3 separate regions of the Homo sapiens genome follow, and all the other regions are linked to region 3. A link means that fine-mapping ties the variant in region 3 to the expression of a gene that starts in the linked region. Tissue or cell type: monocytes. Region 3 holds a variant in brackets; each other region holds the start of a gene. All regions are shown on one strand. Distances are from middle to middle.

Evidence for each region. PIP is the estimated chance that this variant, and not a neighbour inherited with it, causes the effect.
Region 1: IDNK starts here. The variant in region 3 is fine-mapped to the expression of IDNK in monocytes (TOPMed, PIP above 0.99).
Region 2: it holds the start of FRMD3, and the variant in region 3 is fine-mapped to the expression of FRMD3 in monocytes (TOPMed, PIP above 0.99). The same link has a PIP of 0.9 or more in blood mononuclear cells and spleen.

What each region holds. Positions count from the first base shown.
Region 1 is chr9:83,619,886-83,628,067 of GRCh38, forward strand. IDNK (IDNK gluconokinase) reads left to right here and starts at 3,258. Exons shown (of 5, transcript NM_001001551.4): 1 at 3,258-3,336. The coding sequence starts at 3,287. RefSeq lists a silencer at 2,953-3,482 and enhancers at 3,663-3,792, 3,813-3,862.
Region 2 is chr9:83,534,593-83,542,774 of GRCh38, forward strand. FRMD3 (FERM domain containing 3) reads right to left here and starts at 3,809. Exons shown (of 14, transcript NM_174938.6): 1 at 3,493-3,809. The coding sequence starts at 3,639. RefSeq lists a silencer at 1,762-2,056.
Region 3 is chr9:83,565,395-83,573,576 of GRCh38, forward strand. It overlaps a transcript of FRMD3 not described here. Among named protein-coding and RNA genes, the nearest start is that of FRMD3, 31 kb to the left of the region's middle. The variant A/G (reference allele first, on the strand shown) is at 4,195.

The DNA of each region.
Region 1 (8,182 bases), 54 kb after region 3:
ATTGATTTTATACACTGATCTTGTAACCTGTCACTTTCCTGATCTCACTTATTAACTCTAGTAGGTTTATTGTGGATTCCTTAGGTTTTCTATAAACAAGATCATGTGATCTGGAAATAGAGATAGTTTTACATATTCTTTTCCAATCTGGATGCCTTTTATTTCTTTTTCTTATCCAATTGCCCTGGCTAGAACCTCTAACAGAATGTAGAATAGAAGCGGTGAGAGAAGACATTCTTGCCTTGTTCCTGATCATAGGGAGAAACATTCAGTCTTTTCACCATTAAGTATGATGTTACCTGGGGTTTCACAGATACTTTTTATCTAGTTGGGAATTTTGTATTCCTGGTTTGTTGAGTATTTTGATCACAAAGGGAAGTTGAATTCTGTGAAGTGCTTTTGTTTTACATCTATTGAGATAACAGATACCATTTTGCCTTTCTGCAAACTTTGTTCTGGATCTTTAGAGTGGCCACTTTTAATTATGAAGATGTGAAGCAAGTATACAGCCATTACTTCCAGAAGAAAGTGTAACAAGCTACTTGGCTAAGACCTGGGATTTGACTTTTAAGCTCTTTCATGCATCTATTTGAACTCTCAGAATTAAACTGGGATCAAGGACTCTCCTGGAAGGGAAAGGGGGAAGATCCAAACTCTTCTCAATTAGACATATCAGAGCTGTGAGGCTCCTGGTATGTGAATATCTGTCCCAACCCAGCCATCTTTGTGGATGATTTGCCTCCCAGGGAAGTGCCTGTGCGCATTAAGGTGCTCGTCACTGAGCTCTGTTTAACCGCTGTGGAAATGGTCAGCTTCATACAGGAGCGCTGCCATTTCTGTTTGAGACTTACAGTACATGCTGTCCAGAATCTGGGGGTGATCTGGACTTGAGTGACTATAGAAACGCATGCAAGAAGCTGTGCCTCGCTAGGGACTCGGGGTTTCCAGAGTACCATGTGCCTCAGTACAACAGTTCTTGCAGTAGACAGGACCTAAAACCAGACCAATATTCAGCATCTGGGTTGCCCCATAGTAACAGCTGGGAAGCACCGAGACAACCAGGACCAGCAGGTGGCACTCTTTGGAAAGCAAAAAAAAAAACGTGGAATTCAGCTCTTAGGGGCACCTTTGAAGTTCCGCTGTCCTGGAAGCAGGCACAGAGTTTCACTGACACTGGCATGCTGGGTATCTTTCATTGGTACCTCCAGATACAATCTCCACCCTTCTCTTCCCTGCTCTGAGCCCAGGAAATTGGCATGCATGGGCACCGCCGGACTCCCTAGCTCTCCACCTTCCAATTGGGTTTGGCTGGTGGGGTTTGGCCACGAGCAGGAGATCACAGGGCAAGAGGAGGGGAGGGGAGGTTATTTATTCTCCTGATTATTTTTCTGCTGGGTCAACAAGGAATGTCTATCTCTCTCTTCCTAAGGCTACAGTCCTGTCAGACACTTCTTTCTATATGGTCTATTCTCTCTGTCTCTCTCCTTCCATTCTCTTCCCTTCCCATATAAAGGCTCCCTCTCATCAGCCCCTTTCTATTTAAGAGTGAAAACACTTCTCGGTTACTCAGATGTGGACTCTGCCCCTAGTTGCTTTTTCTGACCCTACCCACACCTGTGCTAATAGTCCCTTTGTTAAATCCTGTTCACCTGCCCCAATTTGAGCATGCTGTTTCCTGCCACCACCCTGAGCAGCACAGCAAGTTTAAGATCCTTGGACATGTCTGGGGAAAGAAATCCAAGGAGAAGAATCAGATTTTCTGCTAATCATTCTGATTTGAACATTGAAAGAAATATGAGCTTTTTTTTTTCATACTGAGCTAGCGAAGCAGGGCACGAGTTAAGAGTATTTGCATACACATCTATTCCTCTTATCAAGCTTGAGAATGCCTAGAGGGTAATCTTTTAAATGAATATTAATATGATATTAACCAGCACATGGTAGATGTTCAAGAAATGTGTATTGACCATAACTGAATTGTAAGACCTCTCTCCAAGCCTCAATTTCTTCACCTGTACAGCCCCCATCCAGATTGAAATCTCACCTACTCGGGCTAAGTATATGAAAAACAAAGGCAGTGCAGGGGTAATTGAACTATTCATTAGATAAATGCTTTTATGTCACTTTTATTGTTTTCTAGGACACAGAGTAATACCTACCTTGGTTAACAAAAGACCAAAGGAGGTGATGCCAAATGCGGTTAGAAGTGCTTTTAATCACTTTGGGAGGCCGAGGCGGGTGGATCATGAGGTCAGGAGATCGAGACCATCCTGGCTAACAAGGTGAAACCCCGTCTCTACTAAAAATACAAAAAAAATTAGCCGGGCGCGGTGGCGGGCGCCTGTAGTCCCAGCTACTCGGGAGGCTGAGGCAGGAGAATGGCGTGAACCCGGGAAGCGGAGCTTGCAGTGAGCCGAGATTGCGCCACTGCAGTCCGCAGTCCCACCTGGGCGACAGAGCGAGACTCCGTCTCAAAAAAAAAAAGAAGTGCTTTTAATCAAATAGTTCAAACGACACATAATTAACATTGTTTTAAAGCAAATGGACACTTTAAAGTGGTGCTCCTTCCTCTTAAAGCCCCAACCAGTGCTGGATTTAACAGCAGAGCCATACAGCCAAGACATATGCTGCTACGGTCAACACTCAACCCTAAGTTTGACACCAAAAGATGGCCGCCATTTATTATTGTGACAAAAGGCCAGATTACAAAACGCTGTGTACGGCCTGATCCCAGTTTTACAAAATACTCATACCCATCTATCTACGACGGGGCGCGGGGAAAGGGGAGTCGTTTTAGGAAGTGCTGCTTATTGCTGCCTGGTGTGGGAAATTATGAGTCTTATTTTCTGTTTATTCTTTTTACAAGAACATTTTTATAAATGAATGAATGAATGCTTTCCATGGGTGGATGAGGATCCGGCCTGCCAGGGTGAGGATCCTCTGGAACCAAGAGGGGCCGGGGCAGTAGAACGACAGGTGGCGGGGCTTTGGGCGGCTCCCTCCAGCCCAGGGAGACGCGAGTGCCAGGCCGGGCGCGCGCTTCACTTCCGGGAAGAGGAAAGAGGGAGGGGAGGGGAGAGGAAAAGAAGGGGCAGGAGAGAGAGGCCGGGAGGTTGGGAAAGGGAGGAGGAAAGCATGGAAAAGGGGCGCGGGAAAACGGGGAGGGCGCAGAGGGGCACGGCCCTCACTGCCCCGGCCGGGGCGAGAGCGGCTCCGCCCCTCGAGCGCCGGGTAGGCCGGGGCCGGCGGGGCCCGGAAGGCGACGGGAAGGAGCCGAGCTTGGGTTATGGCGGCGCCGGGCGCGCTGCTGGTGATGGGCGTGAGCGGCTCGGGGAAGTAGGTCCGGGAGAGGGCGGGGGGCGCCCGGGACAAGTGTTGCGGGCGCGGCGGAGGCCGGACGCGTCGCCGTCCCTGCCGGTGGACTGGGGTCTTGGGGACCCCCCACCCTTCCCTTTGCAGATGAAGAAACCGAGGCCCGCGGCTGCCGCGCCCTCTCCCCGCCCTCCAGCCTGCTCGCGGGGCGCCCATCCTGGGACCGCATCCGAGCTCCGGGTTCCCGCTCTAAGACGGGGAGGCTGCGGCGACCGCAGGCTCAGGGAGGAAGCCGCTCCTGAACAGGCGGCTGCGGGGCCGCGCAGGTGGAGGCCTAGCGAGCGGCGCGGGGCTAGGTTTCGGGGCGCCTTGTCGGGGCCAGGCGGGAGGGCGCACGGCCTCTAGCGAGAGGACGCAAACCACGGCCCAGGCTCTCACAGACCTTTGGCCATCTGGACACACAGCGGCCTCCTCCTATGAGGCCCTGGACTTCTCCGATTCAATTTTGGAAAGTGAATCGTTTTCCCCTTCCTTTCATCAGCTTAACCTGGAAGGAGACAGCGTTAATATGGAGGGTGGCTCCTGAGGGTTTGGAAAGAAAGAAGAGAATTGTGGAAACCACAGAGGTAGCCCAGTGTGCTAACCTGGAGACTGAGGAGTTAACATTTGGCTTCCTGTTTAAACCAAAGTCTAACTGTGCCCTTTATCAGAAAAGACAGCTGCTGTACCATTCGACCACAGGCAGCAAAGGACAGAACTTGATCAGCTAAAACATCATAACCTTCAAGGGCCTATAGGACCCTTCTAGAATTTTCTGAATCAGGAACGGCCCATGTTGTGGCCTGTGTAGTCAGGTGTATATTAAAGATTTACTCCAGGTAGATGGGTTTTGCTTTCCAAAATTATTGTAGGGTTCTCAGCCACAAAGATAAAAAGAAATCTTGAACTGCAATTGAAATAAAACATGGAGCCCCCAAATCCCTAGCTGCCATATGATTTGAATCAGTTGGAGAATGTAAAATCATTGCCATGGTGTGATGTAACAGGAGTGAAGAGCCCTAGGTCTTGGTTCTGTTGCTGTCTGGCTGTGTGAGCCTGGGCAGTTCATGTACCCCCTCTGAGTCTTGAATCAGATGAGGGAGGCCTAATCCCTATGATGTATAGCTTGTGATATTCATGTACTCAGTAATTATTGAGCTCAATCCTTACTCTATGTCATTGTCATATAGCGAACAGGACAGATAAAATCCCTGCCCTCAAAGGATTTACATTCTGGTATGGGAGACAGAGTAAATGAATATATGTAGTGTGTGAGTTGGTGATAGATGCTCTGGAGTAAGGGGAACAAAGAGTGCCAGGCAGAGTGGTCAGGGATGTCTCCTCTGGGGGAGTGGCGTTTCAGCAAAGACCTGCAAGACTTGAGGAACCTGCCATGTGGATAGCTGAGGAAAGGGCAGGACAGGCAGAGGGAATGGCAGGTGCAATGGTTCTGAGGCTTAGCTTCTTTTGTTTTTTTTTTGTTTTGTTTTGTTTGAGGCGGAGCTTCACTCCTGTTGCCCAGGCTGGAGTGCAGTGGTGCAATCTTGGCTCAATGCAACCTCCTCCTCCCGGGTTCAAGCAATTCTCCTGCCTCAGGCTCCTAAGTAGCTGGGATTATAGGCGCCCACCACCATGCACAGCTAATTTTTTGTATTTTTAGTAGAGACGGGGTTTCATCATGTTGGCGAGGCTGGTCTCAAACTCCTGACCTCAGGTGATCCATGCGTCTCAGCCTCCCAAAGTGCAGGGATTACAGGCGTGAGCCACCGCGCCCAGCTAAGGCTTGGCTTCTTTAAGGAGCAGGAAGGAACCCATTGTGGCTGAGTGAGGGGAAGCATGATGGGAGATGAAGTCAGAAACAATGCAGGTAAAGAGAATGTGGTCATATGCTGGCAATATTTTGAAGGTAGAGTCAGAAAGATGTGTTTGTGGACTGGATGTTGGGTGTAAGAAGACAAGAGAGAAGTCAAGGATGATTCAAGATTTTAGGCCTGAGTAATTGGAAGGAGGGAGTCGCCACAAACTGATTTGGGGAAGCAGTAGATAGAGCAGATTTGGAAGACAACCTCAGAAGCTCAGTGTGGGATATGGTGACTTGGACGAGCCAATTAGTCATCCAGTGGATGGTGGTTGGATGTCCAAGTCTGAAGTTCAGAGGAGAGGGACTTTAGATCTAACTGTGGGAATCACTGTTGTGTGGGTGTACTTAAAGATCTAAGGTGTTGAGATCACCAAAGGAGTGCATGTAGATAAAGAAGCTGGCCAAGAACTGAACCCTGGGGACTTTCAGTGGCGCAGGGTCAGGGAGATGTGTCCAATGTTATTGACTAGCTGAGTAATAAAAAGACTGGGACTTGATTATATTCATCATTGGATGTAGCAACATCAAGTTCTTTAGTGACTTTGTGAACCCCTATTGGAGCCCTACAGGATTTTTTAATTATACTCCATAGCATTTAGAAAAATATTTATCACAGCCTAATGGCTGAAGAGAACAATAGTCTCAAAACAGAAAGACTCCATTTAGAACACTGTTAAAACACAGTGACCTCAAGGACTAAGTTTGTTACTGTCTTCCCCCACCTGAATGTAAAGGATTATTTTCCTTTTTATTTACTGATACATGTGTCTAGAACAGTTCCTGGCATTTCGTAGATACTAAATACTTGTTGACTTAATGAATGGATGGATGGATGGAAGACGGCAGGCATCTGAGTGGGTGGCAGAGTTAATTTTCTTTATATTTTCACAATCTTAATGAAGCCACCCTTAACATCTCCTTCCAGGTTTCCTTCTCTTTGCTGATGAAACAAGCTCAGACCTTTTGAATATCTTTCTCATTGATTCTGCATCCCTTCCTTCTCCCCCATTGGTCTGTGTTGTCTTTTTAAGTCCCTTGCCCCTGATTTAGACCAACCCACTGGGAGACATATGGACCCCAAATCTTGATTTGTAATCCTGGGTCTGACCAGTATTTTTGGGCCCAGCACTGTGCCTTATTTCTGCCAGGGTCTTTGGTGCATATTCAAGAGTCCAGGTGTTCTCTGGTTTAGACAGACAGTGGTTTTTCTTTTCCCATCTTCTTCCTGACAGTCTACACCCACATCTCTTTACCTCTGCTTTCAAATTATGAGTGCTGGCTGGCATGTTCATTCATGGCTAATCTAACTTGTTTTTTTGTTTTTTGTTTTTTGTTTTGAGACAGACTCTCACTCTGTCGCCCAGGCTGGAGTACAGTGGCGTGATCTCGGCTCACTGCAACCTCTGCCTCCTGAGTTCAAGCGATTGTCATGCCTCAGCCTCCGGAGTAACTGGGGTTACAGGCGTGCACCACCACACCCAGCTAAGTTTTGTATTTTTAGTTGAGACGGGGTTTTGCCATGTTGGCCGAGCTAGTCCCGAACTCCTGGCCTCAAGTGATCCGCCTGCCTCAGCCTCCCAAAGTGCTGGGATTATAGGCGTGAGCCAAGGGCTCAACCTAACTTGGTCTTAAGTGTGATTTCTGCTATGCACACTTCTGGCTTCACCAGCCATGGAGTTTGGCCGGGATGGTCTACTCATCCGTAGGCTGCATGTCTCCCTGCGCAGCCTTCAATAGAATGAACTAATGGGAAAGGTTTCACTGCTCTCGCAACCTTTGGTTACATCCAGGAGCAGATCTCAGTTTGGTACAACTGTGTCTAACACCTCTCTGATAGCTTTTTAGTGAAAGAAAGAGGACCTTTGTTAGGCAACAGTATCCAGCTAGAATTTAATCACATTGTTCTGTTTTCATTATATACAGCTTTTCAGGTACCTTCTATTCAAGGCAAGTGATGATAGCTTCTTGTGCAAGGGAATGAAAGAAAGTTTCCTTCTTTAACACACTTATTTAATTTTTAAAAGTGAAGCAATTAAATAAAAACATCAAAATGTTGAGGTGATATGTAAAATTTAAGAGGGCATGATAAAATAGTATGGGGATAGGTAAAAATTAGGAAGATAGTGCTTAAATAATTGGCATTTGGGCAACACTTTAAACATTGAAAGCGAGAAAGCACTTTATGGGTCATTGTCTGCTGGCCTCCACCCCTACCTACCCTATGTACTAGACTGTTTAGGAAGGCTGAGGCCATGTGTCAGTGAGCTTACCGTTACATCCTGGGAACTGGTAGGTGCTCAATAAAGAAATGAAATGTAGGTGGATGGATACATCATGTGGCTCAGATCCCTTGTTTTGCAGGTGAGAAAACTGAGGTTTAAAGGAACAGGTGACTTGGCTGGGAGCACTCAGTCATTTAGTGGCAGTAGGCAACTGTGGCCCCATCTCCAGTACTGAGTCCCGAGCCCCTTTCACTAGCACATGCTGCCTGGTAGAGTATGAACAGATAGTTACCAAATGCTCTACACAGAGAACATTTAACCCCCAGTCTTAACAAGTGCCGGTGATTCATGAGATATTGACCCATGTCCTTTATTTTACGAGTGTGTCTCTTTTAAACTCCAAAAATGTTTTTATGCTTTTATGAGTGTCCTGAACTTTACATGGGTGCTGCTGGAGATTAAATCCTCCATCAGACCCCTCCATTCAATATTTTCAGCAGAATTTTATCACTATGAATTCAACATCCCCACCACAAAAAAAAAAAAAAAAAAAAAAAAATTACACAACAGGGACCAAAAACTGATTACTGAAGAAAAAACTTGGGTTTAATGAGATCTTATATATTGCCTTTAGAGAAAGAAATAGTGTTAACTAATTATTTCTTCATTGACATTCGTGGGGATCAGCTAAGGCCAGTCTCCAGACTCCACGGTCACGGGCATCACTGCTTTAGGATTACACAGTGAT
Region 2 (8,182 bases), 31 kb before region 3:
CAGAGCACAACTAGGCAATTCTCCCTTAGTTTCTGGCTTGGTTCATCTTTTGATGCATAGGCATAATTTGGGGCTACTACTGTCTGAAATATAAGGACACAGTGTATCAAACCTAACAAGGCATTTATGCATATAGTTTCTTTAAAGGCAAATACCATGTTTCTGGGGGGTGGAAATGGCCCCCAGTGACATTTGGATTGTGGGATTCCAATCAGCTCTGAGATGCCAGCCTCCCTGGAAGACCCAGGACACATTAAGTTTGCAAACTGGCAAATAGGGTCGCTTTGTCCATTCAGATCATGAATCCCAACTGGCCTTCAGTCACTGGTTTAAATTCCCCTACCTTGGATTTACCTCTTTCCATGTCTGGAAATTTCATTGAAACTTCAGCTATTTTAACTATGGGGTAATATGTCAAAGACATACATAAGCTTTGGATCCAGACAATTCTGGATTTGAATTCCAGCTGCTCATTCTCTTTTTAGAGATGTGGCCTTGAACAAGTCACTTAAGTTATTAGCTTCTCAGTTTTCTTACCCAAAAGAAGGGAATAATACCTACTCAAAGGTTGGTGGTAGAGATCAGACATAATGAGTGGAAAAGGCTGGCTCATGAGAGATGCTCAAGAAATGGCACCTAGAGCTATTCACATTGTCTCAAGCAATAGTCCTGAAGGTTTCTATCATCTCTTGCATCTACCATGTGTGGCCACTCTCCAGCACCTTGCTAGAGAAACCTGTTTGAGTGGCTCATTTTTCTTTGAATCTGGAATGCTTACCTACTAGAGAACACAGACTAATGAGCTCCCAAGGATGTGTGGCTTGAGTTTCCCCTACTTATTTTGGGGCTCCATAGGCAGCACTCCTGTAGTGAACAGGAGTGAACAACTAACACATGTCCAAGAGCTCCTGCTCCTCCTACAGAGCCTCTAGATCAAGCTCATCCAACCCATGGCCCAGGACAGCTTTGGATGCAGCCCAACAGAAATTCATAAACTTTCTTAAAACATTATGAGACTTTTTGTGATTTTTTTTTTTTTAGCTCATCAGCTATCGTTAGCGTTAGTGTATTTTATGTGTGGCCCAAGACAATTCTTCTTCTTCCAATGTGGCCCAGGGAAGCCAGAAAATTGGACACCCCTGCTCCAGAGCCAGGCAGACACCAGGGATGAGAGCTCCTAACGCAGACAGGCAGATGTGGGCTATGGAGAGAGGGTGACATTCTGTGACAATATATACAATCCTTTAACTTTGTAGTTCTATAGAAGGAAGGAAGCAAACACAGATGGATTCACCCAGAACAAGTGCCAGTAATTCCAAATGGTTTTGTTTCGCATTGTTTTTTAATCCTTTTGTTCTCACTCTAAGCAAATGGGAAGTCTTTGTTACCTGATACCCGGAAGGGCAATTTCAATTCCTGGTCTGGAGTACTCTAGGAAAGTGTGAGGTCTAAAGTTATCCAAATAAAATATTTTAATTTATTTTAATTGGTTAAATAATAATTGTAATTTGGGGGCAGAAAGGGCAGAAAAAGACAAATCACAAAATGAAACATCATAATTTTTTAAAAATCAGTGCCCAAGCCAACATTTTGAAACATAACATTTTAACCTCTTTGGCACTAGTTGGGTCATAAGCACTGGAGTTTTTCAAACTGTTGTTAGACTGGCTACAATTTATTGTTTCTCAAAACACAAGACAACAAATACATGTCCTTTGGGGAATATTTATTATTCTAAGGAAGACTTCATCCTGAGGGAGGGGAAAAAAATGTCAACACCAAGTGGTACAGGGCAGAAGAGGGCTGAGAGACAGAGGAGAACTCAACAGCCTCTCTCCCTGACGGCCCCTCCATCATCTACACATTCATTATGGGTTAAAGGACCTGTACACCCACTTTAGGACTTAAAGCAAAGTGCACAGTCCACACTCTCTGGATCACAAGACTATTAGTACATGCCAGATGCTTCTGTGCAACCCTTGTGGCAGTAGAAACACTGCCTATCCTGCTAATCCTTTTATTATTAAGTTTAGCAGTGCTGCTTAGCTCAGAATGAAATTCAAGCTCCCCCAGAAAATTCAATGGGAGCCTACTTTCCTGGGAGATCATGGGGCATCACATTCCTACCTTGACACTTGTCCGGCTGTCAGGTTACAAATTAATTGCAACTGCCCCCAACATGTCACACACTCCCACTAACAAAAATTAAATAAAAATAAAACAGGGAAAGTCCTTTCATTCCTTCATGGTTTGCACAGCCTAGAGGCTGATTCCTACTCTGGGAGATGCTGCCCCACTCACCTCCCACTGACATGGGTGGTGTGCCCTGTATTACACTAAAAAAAAAAAAAAAAAAAAAAAGCTCAGTCCCAGAGCCTCAAGACTCGACTAGGGTAGGTGAGAAAGGAAATCCCAGAGATAAACAGTTAAATAGATTTAGAAGTCAGAAGTTAATTGTGCTGAGCCCTGACACAACCTTTCCTGATTGTGTGCGCACCGAGTGGGGCATCTTTGGGGTCCTGGAAGAGGGGCTCCCACCTGCCTACATATTCACCCACAGCAAATATGCACACGCACGCGCAACCACATGCACACACACACCTTTGCACCTCACACTAGCTCTCCTGACAGCCCAGAGGCACTTACTACCCGAGGACAGGGCTGCCAGCAAAGCTGCCTTCTCCCAAACAACTCGCCTTCTCCTCCAACTTGGGCGACAGTGAATGTCCACCAAGATTCCACGGGGCTCTTTTACCCAGGACCCAGGTTCCTGCAGGGCTCCCCACTTGCTGGCCTCACAATCCCTTTTCCTTTCTCCGAAACACTCAGACTTCACACATTCCTTTCGAGGTAGCTCCAGTCCGGCGCAGCGCGCGCTCCATCCCTCAAGGCTGGCGCCCAGGGCAGCCCGGCCTCTCTCACTCTGGGGAAACTTCGCCACCGCCCCACGCGGAGAACTAAAGACCACCGGCGGAGGGTGAGGGGGACCGACACGGAGCGGAAAGCAGGTTCCGGGACTGAGGGCGTCTCCGGAGCCTGGGCGCGGGAGACAGAAATGAGTGAACCCAGCTGATGCATGCCTTCTCCACGTGGAAGAAGGGAGGAAATACCAGTGGGCGACATGCAGGTGCCCCTCTCAGCCCTCGGAGCTCCCATCTCCTGGCGGAGTAGGGCCCAGAGGGGCCAGAGTCCCTCCGGAGGCAGCTGCCCCGCGCCCCTAGCCCGGGCGCAGTGAGACGCGCGCGCAGGGTGCACGCGAGGGGAAGGAGACTGGGCGCGGATAACGCGTGCCTGGCGCTTGCAGGGCACCATGCCCCTCCATGCCAGGATAAGGCCCCCCACCCTCAGAGGCCTGAGGAATCGAAATCTGGCTTTCTAGCAGTCCCCCAATCCCCTCCGGGAGTGGGTTCCTTGTTCTCGCATGCCCACCGCAAAGGCCCCCCGCCCTGCTCCCGGCGTGTGCCCCGCGCCCTCGCCCGGTTCCACGCGCACCTGGATGTGGCAGGAGATCTCCGAGTCGTCCAGCAGCCGGATGGTGCATCTCATCTCCTGGCTGAGCGATTTGACGCTGGAGCTCCGAAAGTGGATCATTTTCATGGTCCTCCTGCCTCTCGGCACACAGTGGCAGGAGGCGAACATGCACCGCGGCCGTGGGGAGCGAGCGGGAGGCTCAGGGCCGGCGCGGTGCTCGCCTGCGCGGACACACACGCTCGCACGCACTGTCCGGGACACCTGGGCGCGGCTCAGCCCCGGGACATCGGCAGCGTCGGGCGCCTGCGGACACACATGCCCAGCGGCCGGGGCGCGGCGGGCGGGTCCCTCCCTCTGTTCGCTCGCCTCCGCCTCGCCCCCTCCTTTCCCCGCCTCCTTCTGTCGCGCGCGCTCGTGCGCCTCCCTCTGCCCGGGCTCGCTCGCCGAGGACGCCCAGAGCCTGAGACCCCCGGCGGGCTCGCGACGCACTCACTCCCACGCGCGCCGAGCAGCTGAAGGAGGAGGCGGAGGGATGGCTGGCGCGGCTGGCCCGGGTGCCCTGGTGGTGGCCTGCTCAGTCGCAGCCGCCGCTGCGTCAAGCTGGGCCCGACTGCCTTCCTCAGCCTCACCGCCTCCTCCCTCCCCTGGCCGCTGTCGCTCGGGCTCCCGGTTGTGCTCGTCCCGGCCCCGGCTCCCCAACGCGCTCGACAGCGCCCTGCTCTGCTCAGCTCCAGGGACCTGGCGCGGGTAGGGGACGGAGAGCGATCCTGACCCACACCGCCAGGGGGATTCCGCCTCGGGAAAGGATTGCTGGGCCCAGGGCGAGTGACAGAGAGAGTGACAGCCCTGACACGGCTACACCAGGAATATCGCTAATAGTAAAAATCTCTGGTACTCATGGAGATTGTTTAAGCCATTGTTTTATTTAATGCTAGCTAGGACTCAGTCTCTTTCTCCAAAAAAGAGCCTTCCATGTGCAAATCCTCCTTTAAATCTCCCAACATCTTAGTGTGATCTTTGATAGCATACCTTTGACCCGAGCAAGAGGGATAGGTTCCTATCCTACTCCCCTGCTTTACAGACCTCCTCCAGTTCCCGGTTGCTCAGGAATTAAGAGGTCTAATGGCAAAGCGGATGTGCCCCATCCCGTTTTAGTCCAATCTCTGGGTATTGAGGACTCTGGAATTCCCCACGCGCCTCCAGGGTGTTGAAGGTAGGAGGTATCCTGCCTCTCTGTTGTCCCCAAGGTGGCTAGAGCCACTGTGTCAGGTACCGTAGGCCCGAGAGTGGCCAGGAGCAGCTGTTGAGTCAGGGGTATGGAGCTTGAATGTGAGCACTAGAATGTCCAGGAGCTGGGAGAGATGGAAGTCCTCTCACCCTGTTGCTCTTGCCGGAGCAGAACAGGTCATTAGGAAGGAACATTTGTTAGAAGAGGAGGTGTTGACCAGCTGTCAGCTTTTTCAAGGTTTGTGCCTGCATAGAGTCCCCTCATCCAAAGATATGCCCTGTCCTGGGGGTCGAGGAAGAGTGGCACACAAATTTTACCTGCCCTGGACAGTCTGGTGGGCCATATATTCTCTAGGACACCTAGTGGGGTTGGCTAAGGTTTGGGGGAGTCCGCATTGCATTTGGACTTCTCTCTCTGCCTGCTCCTGCCTCCTCTCCCTGTTGATCACTAATAAATACCACACAGGACAAACTCAGTCTCAGTATCTGCTCCTGGAAATTCCAAATTGCAACAATTTGTCAAGATAGGAGGATAGAGAATGTTTTATGTAGCACTCAATAGCTGACTATTGCTTATGAATATTTAGATGATAGTATGGGGCATTCATGTAGGCTCTTGAGCTGGGCCCTTCAAATGTTAGGGCAGATCCTGATGGAGAGGTCAGTATTGAGGGTATGGGAAGATGTGGATTTCATTCTTGGCCCAGCTACTGGCTAATCCTGGGGATCTTTGAAAAGTCTCTCCATTTCTTTTCTCATTTCAAAGGAGAGAACACCTGTTCATCCCACAGGTGGCTGGGAAGCTGGTATGACACCGGGTCAGTGGAGGACATCTTACAGCTGTAATCTGTAAATCCCCATATGCACATATGAGGTGGCAGGGATGGGACCTGCCCCAAGTTGAAAACTGGATCATCTCTGCTAGCCAAAAGAGCAGACAGCCCAGAGATCAAAGAAAAGTCACCAGCCAAACAGTCCATGCTTTTCTTTTAAGACCACACACACACTTGTCCATCCTATTATAGTGACCGTTAGGCTCCAAAAGAGTCATATCAATACCCAAAAATTGTTACCCCAAATTCCAAGGAAGCAAAATAAGACCAACAAGGACAGTAGTGAAAAAGACAGAATAAAGATAACCCAATGTGGGACTGTAAGAAACAGAATTTTGAAGAAATGAGAAGAATCTGAGATTGGTTGTCTGGCCTGATTAGGAATAAAGGCTGAGATTCAACTAGTATGAAAATACAGGCTCTGGAAGCACTTGGCATGACAGCTAGGTAAATTACCAAGTATGGTCACCTGGATTGAACTACCCAATGAAGACAAGGCTCTGGGAAACCAACTGGCCATTGTCAACAATAATAATAATAATATGAAGATTAGGAAGAACTCAAAGAATGAACTCAAGGGATGAGTTTAAAACTGGACCACTGAAAGAAAAGTAGTGATGCACTAAGTCCTAAATTATCAGCTTATGACTTTTAAACAACTGTATTTTTACAAACAACAGAGCTCAAAGAATATCTTGTTAATTGAGCCACAAGGCCAAAACTGAAAAACCAAATTCACAATTTCATCTACAAATCGCCAAATTACAAAGTCAATTGAATTATCGGCCTCACAAGATTTTATAATTATCAGCAGGAAAGAGTGGGAATCTGGGAATAAGAATAGGACTATAAAAGAAAACTTGAATGATTCCTAGTCACTCAAGCCCCCAAACTCCCTTGGCAGCAGAAGCATGCCCTCTTCCTTATGTAACGAGGCTGTTCCTGCTTTGTTTGAAGATCCTCTTCGGAACTCACTTAAGGCAGTTACCTTGGAAAGGGAAGCCGATCTCCTCCCACCCCTCTCCCACCATCTCTGACTACTCTCACTCTTAATACTTGAACCAGATTCAGTCACACCCTAGGAGACCAACTATAAAGTCAACCCCAAGAAGAGAAAGAATTGCAAGATTCTGCTAATTTACATTGAAGAGTATATGTGTGAATAAACCTGAATCTGTCCATTTGAATTCACTTCCCAATGACTCTGGTTTCAATGTACTATCTAAATTGACTAACTGACTTCTGGACTCAGCTAAATGAAGATGAGAAAAAGGAAATTCCCTGGTACATGTACAGGAAAAGATCCAAAGAATCAAGGAGATGGAAATATTGCAGTGTATTTCCACATGTGGCCAGCTTACCTCTCTTTAACTGTGTCCCCTGAGGGGGCATCCACCAAGATTTTCAAAGAATCATTGGCAAAGGAAGGACTGCCATCTTTGAAAAGCACCAAAGTGGCTGTTCTTTGTAGCAAGAGATGGTTGTGAAAGACACTGCAGTCAAAAGGAGCTCCCTGACTTAAATGGGAAGGATGAGAGCCTGGGCTGGCAGAAGACAAATAGTGGTGCATGACTTAACCCTCAGTGCCAGGGAGGGCTTGGTACAATCATAAGCAGTGGTACCCAAGTAGACTTCAGAATGGTGTGACTCATAGGGATTTTGCTGGTGGCCAAGCATCCAACTAGGACTCAATTTGATCTATAGGACAAACAAGATTTCTACACCAGGTGAACAAAGGCCAGGCTAAAATCCCCCTACAAATATTCCCAAATCTGAACCTGTCCCCCAAAGACAACCAGAAACATTTTTTTATTTTTTATTATTATTATTATTTTTTACCGATTGGGTCCCACTATGTTGCTCAGGCTGGTCTCGAACTTCTGGCCCCAGTCAATCCTCCTGCTTGAGCCTCCCAAGTAGCTGGGATGACAGGCAACAAACAGAGGACATTTGAGTACAGGAAAGGTGGCTCCACTTGAGGCATTAGAATGTCAGCCATAGCAGTGGCTGCAAGTCCAGTTCTTACTAAAGAAGTGGCAATGGGTGAGATTAATTAGTGTCTCACGCTCAGTGATAGTAACTGATATTCTTTACCAAAAAATATGCCTAACCAATGGGTTATAACACTTTGGTAAGCCACAAATAGATAACAGGTGGCCTGCCCACAAAAGATTGATGGTTGTAAATATTGCATCTTGAATTTTTTCATTTTAAGCACTTTTACAGCCATTAAAATTGATAACTTAAAAAGAAATATTTAGGTATAAATCTAACAAAATATGCACAAGATCTTTATGAGGAAAACTACAAGACTCTGGTGAAAGAAATCAAAGAACTAAATAAATGGAGAGCTATTCCATGTTCATGGATAGGAAGACTCAATACTGTTAAGATTTCAGGTCTTCCCAAATTGATCTATAGGTTAAGTGCAACCCAAGTCAAAACCTGAGCTAGTTACTTTGTGGATATCAGCAAACTTTTTTTAAAGTTTATATGGAAAGGCAAAAACCCAGAGTAGCTAACACAATACTGAAGAAAAACAAACTCAGATGACTGATATTACCTGACTTTAAGACTTAATATAAAACCAAAGTGATCAAGGCAGTATGGTACTGGCAAAAGAATAAACAAATTGATCAGTGGAACAAAAT
Region 3 (8,182 bases):
GAAGAATGACGGGATCTGGAGGAAGTTGTTTATCCAGAGCTGAAACATAAGGAAGCCAATTTCAAGGGTGGGGCATCCACCCTCAGAACAAGACTCTTCTTCTTAGAGCCTCATTGTTAGCCATGAATCTTGGGCTACTCAGATGGACCCAGTCACCCAGGGTTCCCTCTCCTGAGACACATTTACACCTGCAAAGATACTGCCCGTAGCGCCCTGTCAAAATCTGACTGTCCCAGTCCCATTTCTTCAATGTCTGCCTGGTGACTGAGAAGTCAATCAAATACACTGATTAGTAATAGAGAATTAATGGATGATAATTACTTATGTGTTGTCCTTCCAAATAAAAATAATAATATGGATTCAGCTGAAGTTTAAGTCTTAACCTGAATTTTCCAATTACGGGAATTTTAGGCAATACGGCAGGCCAGTGGAGAAATTTGAGAAAGGAGTTAGGAAATTGGTCTCCTTTTGCATCAAATAAGCCACTAGTTATTCTGTTAACACTTAGAGCTGGCTCTGCATACTCCCATCTGGGAAAGGAGGAGAGTCTATTAAGTTGGGTGCTAAAGTATGATTTACAATAAAAAGGCCAAAAAAATTGAAATGGCCATATGTTAATCTTGGGGAATCTTGCACAGTTACTGACATTATTATGCGGAGTGTATTAATCTGTTTTCATGCTGCTGATAGAGACATACCCGAGACTGAGAAGAAAAAGAAGTTTAATTGGTCTTATAGTTCCACATGGCTGGGGAGGCCTCAGAATCATGGCAGGAGGTGAAAGGCCCTTCTTACATGGTGGCAGCAAGAGAAAATGAGGAAGAAACAAAAGCAGAAACCCCTGATAAAACCATCAGATCTTGTGAGACTTCCCCACTCTCAGGAGAATAGCATGGGAAAGACCAATGCCCATGGTTCAATTACCTTCTCCTGGGTCCCTCCCACAACATGTGGGAATTCTGGGAGATAAAATTCAAGTTGAGATTTGAGTGGGGACACAGCCACACCATATCATTCCACCCCTGGCCCCTGCAAATCTCATGTCCTCATATTTCAAAACCAGTCATGCCTTCCCAACAGTCCCCCAAAGTCTTAACTCATTTCAGCATTAACCCAGAAGTCCATAGTCCAAAGTCTCATCTGAGACAAAGTAAGACCCTTCCACCTATGAGCCTGTAAAATCAAAAGCAACATAGTTACTTCCTAGATACAATGGGGGTACAGTATTGGGTAAATACAGCCATTCCAAATAAGAGAAATTGGCCAAAACAAAAGGGCTACAGGGCCCAAGCAAGTCCAAAATCCAGTGGGGTGGTCAAATTTTAAAGCTCCGAAATGATCTCCTTTGACTCCAGGTCTCAAATACAGGTCACACTGATGCAAGAAGTGGGTTCCCATGGTCTTGGGCAGCTCCGCCCCTGTGGCTTTGCAGGGTACAGCCTCCCACCCGGCTGCTCTCACGGGCTGGCATTGAGTGTCTGAGGCTTTTCCAGGCACACAGTGCAAGCTGTTGGTGGATCTACCATTCTGGGGTCTGGAGGACGGTGGCCCTCTTTTCACAGTTCCACTAGGCAGTGCCCCAGTAGGGACTCTGTGTGAGGGCTCCAACCCCACATTCCCCTTCCACACTGCCCTAGCAGAGGTTCTCCATGAGGGCCCTGCCCCTGCAGCAAACTTTTGCCTGGGCATCCAGACATTTCCATACATCTTCTGAAATCTAGGCAGAGGTTCCCAAACCTCAGTTCCTGACTTCTGTGCACCCACAGGCTCAACACCACGTGGAAGCTGCCAAGGCTTGGGGCTTCCACCCTCTGAAGCCACGGTCAGAGCTAAATGTTGGCCCCTTTCAGCCACAGCTGGAGCAGCTGGGACACAGGGCACCAAGTCCCTAGGCTGCACCAAGTCCCTAGGCTGGGACTCTGGGCCTGGCCTACAAAACCACTTTTTCCTCCTAGGCCTCTGGGCCTGTGCTGGGAGGGACTGCCGTGAAGTTCTCTGACATGGCCCAAAGACATTTTCCCCATGGTCTTGGGGATTAACATTAGGCTGCTTGCTACTTATGCAAATTTCTGCAACTGGTTTGAATTTCTCCTCAAAAAATGGGTTTTTCTTTTCTACGGCATCATCGGGCTACAAATTTTCCAACTTTTATGCTCTGTTTCTCTTTTAAAATGGTATGCTTTTAACAGCACCCAAGTCACCTTTTGAATGCTTTGTTGCTTAGAAATTTCTTCTGCCAGATACCCTAAATCATCTCTCTCAAGATCAAAGTCCCAAAATCTCTAGGGCAGGGGCAAAATGCAGCCAGCCTCTTTGCTAAAACATAACAAGAGTCACTTTTGCTCCAATTCCCAACAAGTTCCTCATCTCTATATGAGACCACCTCAGCCTGGACCTTATTGTTCATATCACTATCAGCATTTTTGTCAAAGCCATTCAACAAATCTCTAGGAGGTTCCAAACTTTCCCACATTTTCCTGTCTTCTTCTGAGCCCTCCAAACTGTTTCAGCCTCTGCCTGTTACCCAGTTCCAAAGTCACTTCCACATTTTCAGGTATCTTTTCAGTAATGCCCCACTCTACTGGTACCAATTCACTGTATTAGTCCAAATTCACGCTGCTGATAAAGACATATCTGAGACTGAGAAGAATAAGAGATTTAATTGGACTTACAGTTCCACATGGCTAGGGAGGCCTCAGAATCATGGTAGGAGATGAAAGGCATTTCTTACATGGCAGCAGCAAGTGAAAATGGGGATGAAGCAAAAGCAGAAACCCCTGATAAACCCACCAGATCTCATGAGACTTATTCACTATCACGAGAACAGCAGGGGAAAGATTGGCACCCAGGATTCAATTACCTCCCCCTGGGTCTCTCCCACAACACGTGGGAATTCTGGGAGATACAATTCAAGTAGAGATTTAGGTGGGGACACAGACAAACCATTTCAAGGAGTATGTAGAAATATGACAAATTATGTATTAAATTAATTGGGGAGATCAAAATAATATCTATATTAAAATTGTAGATATTTTTAAAACACATATCAAGTACCACTTTGCCTTTAAAAAGAGAGAAATCTTGTCATTTGCAACAACATGGATGAATCTGGAAGATATTATGCTGAGTGAAATATGCCAGGCACAGAAAGACAAATACTGCCTGATCTTACTCATGTGTGGAATCTAAAAGAAGGTGAACTCAAAGAATTAGAGAGTAGAACAATGGTCACCAGACGCTGTGGGGTGGAGAAGAAGGGAATGGAGAATTACTGATCAAAAGGTATAAAGTTTCAGACAGACAGGAGGACTAGGTTTACTGCAATTAAGATTACTATAGTCAAAATAATGTACTATATATTTAATAATAAGTAAGAGTAAATTTCAGATGTCTCAGTGTAAAAAATGATAGGTAAGTCAGATGATGGATAAGTTAATTAGCTTAAATAGATCATGCCACATTGATCTATATCAAAATATCACATTATACTCCATAAATGTGAATAACTACAACTTGTTAGAAAAGATAGATAGATAGATAGATAGATAGATAGATAGATAGATACATACATACATACATACATACATACATACATACATAGAGGTAATAATTGGACACAATATTGGGAAATGATTTCAATAGCCAATATGAGTAAGGGATAGGATTAACCCTTCAATTTCCTGCAGCAGTCTAGATAAACTTTTCTTTGCAAAGATAATAAGCTATTTAAAAAAGGAGAATATGGGCACGAAGGATATTAAATTCTAGCCTGAATGCTCCAGAGACTTTCTGAAGGTAGACTAAGAAGATATCTGTGCTCAGGTACGATACTCTGCTAAAGAAAACATGTAGATACTTAATGCCATGTTTTAAAAATGCATACCATCTACTTAAGGAAGAAAATTTACCTTAGATGGACTGGAAAACTTCAATAACATTGGAAGAGATCCCTCCTCTTGCAGATGGATCTCATTTTTGATAAATAGACTCTCCCCAACCCAATCTAAAGTGTCCCAGCCCACCCACAGGCGTCTGCCTGGCCCAGGAGCTGAGGCTGAGAGCATGCTGCCCACAGAAACGGGGACTTGCCACCCAGTGCTCAGCCTGTTCTCAGAAGCTGCAGTTTCCTTCCTCCATCCTGCCATTGACCTCAAATTGAGGAAGGAAAGTAGCCATTTGATTGCTGCTGTTTCC[A/G]TTTCTAGCTCTCTAAATTTAGCTGCTAGACTTTTTGACCTGGCCTTCTGAGGCCAGGCATAATATCTTCCAGTTTCATCCATGCTGTTGCAGATGATAAGATTTGTCTCTTTTGAAAGCCAAGTAGTACTTGATACGTGTTTTCAAAACGGCTACAATTTTAATATGGGTATTATTTTGATTTCGCCACTTAATTTAATATATACTTCAGCATATTTCTACATACTCCTTGACATGGTTTGGCTGTGTCCCCACCCAAACCTCAGCTTCAATTGTATTTCCCAGAATTCCTACTCTGAGAACTTTGTATTTTTCTATTTTAGTTGTTTTGTGTTGAATTGAAGGCATTTCAGCACAGAAACTGAAATTCTCCAGAATGTCGGATTCTGGAAACTCCAAAGTTTAAGGATGAATACAGAGCTCCTGGCTTTTTCAAGTTCCCATCAGATTTTCAGTTTGAGTTTTTGTCCAACAAAGTGGTTCATGTTGCTCAAATTCCCATCTCCTCCGCTTACCTTCATTCACTCATGCAACATTTGACAAACATTTACTAAGTATCTACTGTATGTCAGGCACTCCTCTAGGCACTGGGACAACAGCATGAACAAAGCAGATAGAGGTATCTGATTACCTTGCTGTGGGAAGAAACAACTTATAACCAGAATACATAAGAAAAATAGTAAACTAGATGGTGATCCAATTATCTGAGGGGAAATAAGCAGGGAAAGGAAAAGGGGGTGTTGGGAGTAAAGATGACTGTTGCAATTCATTACATAGAATCACAAGAAATTGCCATCTTGGAGGTCATATATTACTTTTGAACTACTGGCAATTTCATGTGATTTAATCTGCATTGGTTTTCTACTGTTGCATAACAAATTATCACACACTTAGTGTTCTCAGCAAATAATGCAATGAGTACAAAGATCCTCAGGGAGTCATATGCTTGGATTGTTGAAGAACAGCCATGAGGTCTTAGTAGCTGGACTGGAGACCGAAAGTAGCAGGATTTCAAGTCAGACAGCATTGCAAAGTGAATAGATCACACAGGGACCAGTTAGCAATGGAAAGGATTTGACTTTAACTCTGAGAGTATTGAGAACTCAATAAAGAATTCTGAGCAGATTTTGGCATGATCTGACTTACAAACTGACAGGAACACTTGCTGCTGTGTTGAGAACACATGAAGAGAGGCAAGGGCAGAAGCAGGGAGACCAGTTAGGAATCGGCTTCCGTAATCTAGGCAAGAAATGATGGTGGTTTGGACCTGGGTAGCAAAGGAGGTGGTGAGGAGTGACTGGGTTCGGAGTATATTTTGAAAGTAGGACTGAAAAGACTGCACATAAGGTAAAAGAAAAGTCAAAAATGACTCTGCTATGTTTTGGATTTAGTCTGTCCCTGCACAAACTCATGCTGAAATTTGATTCCCAATGTGGCAATGTAAGTCATATGGACTAGTGGGAGGTCTTTGAGTCATTGAGGCTGGGGGGGATTCCTTCATGGACAGATTAATGTTCTCCCATGGAGGTGAGCACTTGCTCTCTCAGGAATGGATTCATTCCTGCAAAAAAAGGTTCTTAAAAAGAGTCTGGCTTCCTTGGTTTCTCTTGCTTCCCCTCTCCCAATGTGATCTCTTTGCAAACTTCACTCCTCTTCACTCCCCTTCTACTTTCCACCATGAGTAGAAGCAACAAGAGGCCTTCACCAGAGGCAGCTGCCCAATCTTGAACCACCCAGCCACCAGAGTCATAAGCCAAATTAGCATCTTTTCTTTATAAATTACGGAGTCTCTGGTATTCTGTTTTAGCAACACAAAACAGACTAAGATAGACTTCCAAGGTTTTTGACTTGAGCAACCAAAAGGATGCAATTGCCATTCATGAAAATAGTGACGACTGCAGGAAGAGCAAGCCTGTGAAGGAGATACCAGTAGCTTTGTTTTAGTCAGGTTAAATTTTAGTTGCGTGTTGACATCTGAATTGAGATTTCAAGTAGACGGTTGGGTACACAAGGCTGGGGCCAAGGGAGACATCTAGCTAAGACAGAAATTATATATTCAGCTAAACATAAGTCCACACTGACATCTCTGACCTTAACCCAGTACCACAGAGTTCATTCTAGCCTTCCTGTCTTGCTCATCTGTAACTTTACTCTCTGACAATGAGAAACCTGGTCCCACCAATGAAGATCATTCTTGACCTTGACAGAGGAATTTCTGTGAAACAGGGGAACCTAAAGCTTGGCTGGAGTGTGTTTCAAAGAGAATGAGAGAAGAGAAATTGGAGTCAACAACTATACGTAAACAGTGGTTCCCAACATTCAGTATAGATCACAATCACCTGCAGGCTTGTTAAAGCACAGATTGCTGGGCCCACACCCAGAATTTTTGATTCAGTAAATTTGGAGTAAGGCCCAAGAATATGTATTTCTTACAAGCTCCCAGATGATGCTAATGCTGCTGGTACTTATACCACACTTTGAGAACCACTAGACTCACAGAATTTTGCTTGACAAGGAAGACAAGAAATGGAGCAATAGATAGATGGTGAAGTTTTTTGAGGTGTGTGTGTGTGTGTGTGTGTGTGCATGCGCATGTGTGTGTGTGTAGGCAAGTGGTAACAGCACATTTGTAGTCTAATGAGAAGAGTCAAGTAAAGAGGAAAAGAATACTGTTTCAAGAGATGGGGATAGTGGAAATGGTAGGGAATTGCTGGAGGAAAATCCTTGAGCTGGTGAGAGGATAGAATCAGTGCCGAGAAAGGACAGGCCTGAAAGGGCAGCATGTTCAATTCATTCTTAATAACTAGAGGGAAAGTAGAGTATATCAGAACAAATGGAGGTAGATGAGAGGTGGCACCGGGGCCTTGTGAAGTCTCTTTTCATTGTCTCTCATTTCTCAGTGAAAGAATATGTAGTTATCCCCTGAGAGAGAGGCTGGAGGAGGCAGCGTCAGAGTTTGGAGGTTAAAGAATGCAAAGAATCGCCTAAGAGAAGGGAGAGTAAATAGATTAGAGAAATATAGAATGATTGCTACGCAGCATTATGAGCCTTCTTGGGGTGAGTGGTCAGGAAGTGAAAGTGAGACAGGCATGTGTGGCTGTGTTTTTCTTCCAGCCTGGTTCAGCAGCACGGGAACAGGCGTGGAGTAAGAGCAGAGTTGGATTTGTGCAGGATGTGGTTTCTCAGGGAAAGGCAATGAAGCAAGAGAAAAGCCAGAGATTTGGCTTGTTGACTATAATGAAAGCACTTTCCATTTCTGTTTGGCCTTATGAAATATTCAATAAAAAATACTTTCTACATTTATCTTTTCCTGTTATTGAAGCAACAATAATAATTGCAATTTTAAAGGCTGTGACCATCATGGAAATGTATTTATAATACAGTGTTATTGAACAAAGGTAGGAATCAAAACTGGGTCTATCCTGGGATTGCAGAAAAATAAAAATGACGGAAGAATGTGGACAATGGTAAGTACAGGGATGACTGAAAAGAGTTTTATTCATGTAGTGGTGAGATTGTGGAGGAATTTCTTTCTTATTTTCCTATTTATTTATGTTCAGTTTAGGTCAATAAACATTAATTGAGCATCTATTAATGCCCATCATTGTTCTAGGCTCCAAGAGCACCAAAAAAAAGGAAGAAGATTCAGAAAAGAAGAAAGAGGAAGATGGGAAGAAGATGGTGGAGAAGGAGGAGAAATTATAGTTTTCTTTTTCACTTAAAAAGCCTATAGGCTAAGAATGATATTGCCATGTTTTTGTTTATATAACAAATCATTATACTAAAAATTTTACCATAAATGTGGCAAACAGGATTTTAGTGTCTTTAACAGACTACATTAGTTATATTCTTTTGGTTATAAGTAAGAATCTTACTAAAATTAAGTTAAGCAAAGCAGGACACCTGATTGTAAGGACTGGATCGCAAAAACCTAATGGCAAGAAATAGTGGGACCCCAGGAGCAAGCTGGAAGCAGAGACCTGAACAC